Linked DNA regions of Homo sapiens: region 2 is reported to be linked to region 1. The links are microRNA targets in miRTarBase. Many come from high-throughput screens and were not tested one by one. Region 1 holds a microRNA gene; the other region holds the end of a gene's coding sequence.

Region 1 (3,274 bases):
CGGCGGCGGCGGCCTGAACAGTGTGCACCACCACCCCCTGCTCCCCCGTCACGAACTCAACATGGCCCATAACGCGGGCGCCGCGGCCGCCGCCGGCACCCACAGCGCCAAGAGCGGCGGCTCCGAGGCGGCTCTCAAGGAGGGTGGAAGCGCCGCCGCGCTGTCCTCCTCCTCCTCCTCCTCCGCGGCGGCAGCGGCGGCATCCTCTTCCTCCTCGTCGGGCCCGGGCTCGGCCATGGAGACGGGGCTGCTCCCCAACCACAAACTGAAAACCGTTGGCGAAGCCCCCGCCGCGCCGCCCCACCAGCAGCACCACCACCACCACCATGCCCACCACCACCACCACCATGCCCACCACCTCCACCACCACCACGCACTACAGCAGCAGCTAAACCAGTTCCAGCAGCAGCAGCAGCAGCAGCAACAGCAGCAGCAGCAGCAGCAGCAACAGCAACATCCCATTTCCAACAACAACAGCTTGGGCGGCGCGGGCGGCGGCGCGCCTCAGCCCGGCCCCGACATGGAGCAGCCGCAACATGGAGGCGCCAAGGACAGTGCTGCGGGCGGCCAGGCCGACCCCCCGGGCCCGCCGCTGCTGAGCAAGCCGGGCGACGAGGACGACGCGCCGCCCAAGATGGGGGAGCCGGCGGGCGGCCGCTACGAGCACCCGGGCTTGGGCGCCCTGGGCACGCAGCAGCCGCCGGTCGCCGTGCCCGGGGGCGGCGGCGGCCCGGCGGCCGTCCCGGAGTTTAATAATTACTATGGCAGCGCTGCCCCTGCGAGCGGCGGCCCCGGCGGCCGCGCTGGGCCTTGCTTTGATCAACATGGCGGACAACAAAGCCCCGGGATGGGGATGATGCACTCCGCCTCCGCCGCCGCCGCCGGGGCCCCCGGCAGCATGGACCCCCTGCAGAACTCCCACGAAGGGTACCCCAACAGCCAGTGCAACCATTATCCGGGCTACAGCCGGCCCGGCGCGGGCGGCGGCGGCGGCGGCGGCGGCGGAGGAGGAGGAGGCAGCGGAGGAGGAGGAGGAGGAGGAGGAGCAGGAGCAGGAGGAGCAGGAGCGGGAGCTGTGGCGGCGGCGGCCGCGGCGGCGGCGGCAGCAGCAGGAGGCGGCGGCGGCGGCGGCTATGGGGGCTCGTCCGCGGGGTACGGGGTGCTGAGCTCCCCCCGGCAGCAGGGCGGCGGCATGATGATGGGCCCCGGGGGCGGCGGGGCCGCGAGCCTCAGCAAGGCGGCCGCCGGCTCGGCGGCGGGGGGCTTCCAGCGCTTCGCCGGCCAGAACCAGCACCCGTCGGGGGCCACCCCGACCCTCAATCAGCTGCTCACCTCGCCCAGCCCCATGATGCGGAGCTACGGCGGCAGCTACCCCGAGTACAGCAGCCCCAGCGCGCCGCCGCCGCCGCCGTCGCAGCCCCAGTCCCAGGCGGCGGCGGCGGGGGCGGCGGCGGGCGGCCAGCAGGCGGCCGCGGGCATGGGCTTGGGCAAGGACATGGGCGCCCAGTACGCCGCTGCCAGCCCGGCCTGGGCGGCCGCGCAACAAAGGAGTCACCCGGCGATGAGCCCCGGCACCCCCGGACCGACCATGGGCAGATCCCAGGTAACCCTCGCGCCAGCCGGGCCTGCTTCCGCCCGGCGGCCTCGCCGCGCCGCGAGCCTGAGTTTCTTTCTTTGCCGCGTACTTTTCCCCGTCTTCCCGCGGGGGCGGCGGGGGCGCGGCGCCCAAAGCCATCTTGACGGGCGGCCGCCTCCCGCCGCGGTCGGGGCGCCCCGGGGGCCGGCGCGCTGTCCAGGCCTGGGAGGGCTTCGCCGGGCCGGGCCGGGCCGGGTGGCTTCTACCCCGCCGGCCCGCACCCGCGTCCCCCCCCTCCCCCAGGCCCGGGAACGCGAAGCGAGATCCCGAGGCGCCACCCGCGCGGTCGCCGTTTGGGGCGGCGGGGACCGTTCGGGTGCTTTTGTAACAAATAGGCTCTCCCGGCCAGGACGGCTGGGGCGAAGAGCCACCCGATCGGTTCTGGGAGCGCCCACAATGTGCTTTAACGGGGGAAAGAATGAGGAACTTTCTCACACCTTTAGCCACAGCACGTTCCCTCTTGGCTTCCGAGGTCCAGGCAGGGAAAATAGGTTAGCTTTGTGACAAGCGAGTGGGTTTTTCCTACTTAGGGAGAGCCATTCAGAGACACTCGGTGCGGGCTTCGAGCTCGAACGTTTGCTGGTAGGAATAATAACAAAATTTACAACGACATGGAGGTGCAATATTGTAAAATACATCGATTCGTTCCTTAGAATAGCCAGGGAAATCCATTATTGGGCTTACGGGCTGCTTGCAGGGAGTCACCTTCAACAGGCAGGCTATGTGAAAGGAGCACGTTCCGGATCAATTGAACTTATTTTGATCATGGATTAGGCATGCATTTTATTCAGCAAATCCAGTAAGATAGCAGACCAGTGAAAATTGATCTTTTGGGATCGTATTTATTTGGATTTTCTTTATTTTGCTGTCACCCGAGTCCTACAGCGCTGTTAGGAAGTGTCCTGCACTCTTGCTGTTTCTTGCTAGTAGGCTGAGCCTAAAGACTGACTTGATCTCCTTTGCAAGGTTTGGAATTTGAATTGTGGAGGTAAACTGGCTGTAATAGTCTCCAGACAGCTGCCTCTGAGTTGACATCTAATCTGCCATCTGATTGGCTCCCCTCTCACCATTGGGCATTTAGCACTGCTGATGTAAATAGAAGTGCTGAGCAGTACAGTCACAAAAATTCTTGCCACAAATAATAACTGAGCTCTATTACAAGCAAATGTAAGGTTCAGTATTTAAAGCTGAAACTATTATGAATCATAGTTATTAATAAGAGGATCAAATACAGAAAAACAGTTCGCTGGTGTCCAGTATTGGGCATTTACAAAATTCAGATCTTTGATGATAGTCTTAGAATATGCACATTACATATATCATAGACTTTAATTGGAGGCTGAGGATAAGGCCATTGAAAAATAAGTAAACCACGAATTTTACCAATTTTTGGATTTGTAAAGCCTTTATAAAAGTCTTCCCTTTACAAATTCAACTATGGAAAAATTTGAATTCTGTCAGCACACGCAGCTTAATAAAACCTTAAAATTTTTTTAAGATTTTGATAGGCAGCAATATATTTTGGTGATGTGTAATTCACCTGATAAACAAGATTTAAGCTTCATTTTTTTGTGATTTATCAGTTCTGACTGTTCAAAGATATTTGTGGATGAGGAGTTTTGGTTAGAATTGACATAT
Region 2 (3,000 bases), not on the chromosome of region 1:
ATTAGATGCCCACTGTGTGTCTGGCACTCTTCTAAGTGCTTTGCATAATGACTCATTTAATCCTTTGAATAACTAAATGAGAGGGGCCCAGATATTACCCTCATTTTACAGGAAAAAAACTGAAGAACAGAGGGGCTTAAATAACTTTCCCAAGGCCTCTCACCTAGGAAGTGGCAGAACCACGATGAATGATGTCACCAAGGTGGGGAAGGAGTTGTGGAGGCAAGAGGGCCTTTCCTAATACAGAACTATTTACTCAACCTGAGAAAAGGCTACAAATGGGGTGCTGGGGAGACAGGGGCATGCCAGTCCTCCTGACTTGCTTTGGGTGTGGATGTCCATCTGATTGTCATCTCTTCTTGTGCAGGCTGGCCCTGCAGCATGGGGACGGCCATGTTGTGGATTACCTGTCCCAGCCGGTCATCGACTACATCCTCAAAAGCCAGCTGTACATCAATGCCTCCGGCTAGCAGCCCCTCGTCCTCCGGCAACACAATGGCCCCTCCATCTTTGTCAGCCCCCTGTTTCTCTCCTGCCTCTCTGTTTCTCCATCTCCTCGTCTTGACTGTTTTCCCTACTTGCTGACTTAACCCCCCATAGTGTGGGGGACCTGCAGAGAACCATGGCATTCCCTATTCCACAGTCATCTTTGGACAGACTTTCCTCTAGTCTCCGGGTTGGGGGTGGGTGAGGGAATGGGGTGGGAGTCGGGGGAAGTGCAGTCCTTGGAGATGTACTGGTGTCCGTCTCCCAGCATGCTCTAGAGAGGCGGCTCTGGTGCCCATCCTCCCAGCACGCTCTGGGGAGGCGGCTCTGGTGCCCATCCTCCCAGCATGCTCTAGAGAGGCGGCTCTGGTGCCCCTCCTCCCAGCATGCTCTGGGGAGGCGGCTCTGGCTCTTGCCTTCCCAGCATGCCCTTTACTACAAAGGGCTATTTTTCTTTTCTTTCTTTTGTTTATTTATTTTTCTTTGTTCACTCCCTGTAGAACTTGGATGAAATCAGTGTCCATGGTTCTTTATGTTTGTAGTCTTGATGTGCTCCTGTGGTATTACTTCCCCTCTGATAGGACATTGTAGCCAGCCTCAGCACTCAGTGAGTTCATCAGGGCCACACCCAGTAGAGAAGGCCAAGCAACCTCCACTTCTTCAGCACCACACACACGCACACACACACACACGCACACATGCGTGTGCACCCGCGCACGCACATACACACACACATATAGCAGTAGCAGCAGCAGCAGCAGCAGCAGCAACCTTTGATCAGGAGTGAGATTTTCGGGTTCTGAAACCTGGGACACGAGTCTGTGAATAGTCGGTTTTCTCAGAATAATTTGAATCTGTTTTCTTAGTTTCAAATGACCATTTCCCTGATGCTCTGAGCTTATGATCACACAGAGCCAGTCCATCCTCATTTCCTGGTGGCATCTGTTCATTTACCTTTGTGGACTGTAGCTGATGGCACAGTGCGGGTTCCCTACCAGCCAGGGGTTTCCAAGGGACCTTTGGAGGCCATGCTTAGACACATTCCTGTACCTGAGAACAACCACATAGGCAGGACCAGATCCACATCGTGCAGTCGTGTCATAAAAAAACAAAACAAAACAAAAAAACACTAGGAGTCCACTCAACCCTGGAGGTCTTTGCTAATTGGAATTATGTATTGTCTGTTGGGCTGGGAAATGTCTCTTTCATATTGTAAGTCCAGGATGAACTAGGAGAAAGCAATTTGTTGCCCTGATGATAACTGATGATTTTCACCCTCTCTAGCTGAGGTAACTCAGACAGTGCATGAGGTCAGTTTCTTCTTGAGAAGCAGTGCCTTGGTCTTGTTTCTGTGGTTGGTTCTAGCCCCTGCAGAGCCTGGGAGCTGCAGGAACTGTCTGAGAAAATCTCCCTAATAGGGGAGTGGGTTCCCAGAAGGGAGATCTGGGAGGGGTCAGGAGCCACTAAGTTGCTTCACTCCTTTTTTCTCTAATTTTCTACCTTCCTCTCTGTTCCTGCAGACAGTTTTGCCAGCTTTGCTTCTGGTTACTAGGGTCTCATGCGTGTCCTGCTTGGAGAGCCATAAGGAAATTGCTGTCTTGTGCTTTGTGTCTCTCATCCAGTCTCTGGCTCTTGGGATTCTGGTCTTTGAGAAATAGTCCCTGAGTATTAGGATACTTTTATCAAAATCTAGTACCAGCTACGGCCAGAAAGGGCCAGGTGGGACCTGAAAGCAAAGACAATGTTCTTTACCACACGTTTCACATCTGCAACATCCTTCAATTGCGGGAAAAGGAACTTGATTTAACAGAAGAACATGGTAGAGCAGCATCCAGAAAGTCTGTTATTCCTCTTGGATTTTTTGAAATAATCTTCAGAGGAAGGAAGGAAAATCCTATTTTGGGGTATCAGTGTTTGACTAGGGATCATGAAATAATAAACTGAAAAAAACTTTAGAGTTCAGTTGATCCAACACTTTCCTTTAAAAGTTGAGGGAGCAGAGGCCCATGGGATTAAATGGCTGGTCCAGGTCAGCCAGCAGGTGTAGGGCCTGACAAGAACATATTGTTTCCCTGACCCCTAGGCCGTCACACCACACCCTCCATTTCCTCATGTTGCTGACCAGGTGCCCATATGATTTCTACACTTCCCAAGCCTTACCCTGGCATCTTTCTTTTAAATTATATCTGTCCCAGGTGCTCTCCACACATAGGATGGTAATGCCAGTCCCAGGGGAGGGTGTGATAGTAAGGAAGGCCACTGTTAGGTTTCCTTTAGAAATAAAGAGATCTCAGCAGCTTGGAAGAAATCCCAGAAGCGGACTCCATCAATCCAAGAAAGAGTTGCTTTGTGGAAGGTGAAGGAAGACCCACAGAGTGCTCAGGATGATGCTATTGCTGGAGAGCGAAAGATGGAACAGCCTTGTCCAGGCAGAACAGTCATAAGCCAGGAAATGAAACAAAGGAAAACAGGTGCCTGAATTTCCTGGGGAAACATGGCTTGTTTAAGGACTTG

The links. The annotated mature microRNA hsa-miR-4466 reads GGGUGCGGGCCGGCGGGG and lies in region 1 at 1,842-1,859, opposite strand. An mRNA with a match to its seed (bases 2 to 7 or 8) in the 3' UTR can be bound and repressed. Matches are read on the target gene's strand: a 7mer-m8 pairs with bases 2 to 8, a 7mer-A1 pairs with bases 2 to 7 and ends in A, and an 8mer does both.
Region 2: miRTarBase lists NMNAT2 as a target of hsa-miR-4466. The part of its 3' UTR that is shown has no 7-base or 8-base seed match.

What each region holds. Positions count from the first base shown.
Region 1 is chr6:156,777,869-156,781,142 of GRCh38, forward strand. It overlaps MIR4466 (microRNA 4466), which reads right to left and starts at 1,863; the gene lies at 1,810-1,863. ARID1B (AT-rich interaction domain 1B) reads left to right here. Exons shown (of 20, transcript NM_001374828.1): 1 at 1-1,603. LOC115308161 (a long non-coding RNA gene) reads right to left here and starts at 650. Exons shown (of 2, transcript NR_163974.1): 1 at 378-650. RefSeq lists silencers at 214-283, 534-763, 984-1,033, 1,104-1,793, 1,824-1,993 and 1 more and an enhancer at 727-1,262.
Region 2 is chr1:183,250,111-183,253,110 of GRCh38, reverse strand. It overlaps NMNAT2 (nicotinamide nucleotide adenylyltransferase 2), which reads left to right. Exons shown (of 11, transcript NM_015039.4): 11 at 368-3,000. The coding sequence ends at 470. It also overlaps a transcript of LAMC2 not described here. Among named protein-coding and RNA genes, the nearest start is that of LAMC2, 65 kb to the right of the region's middle.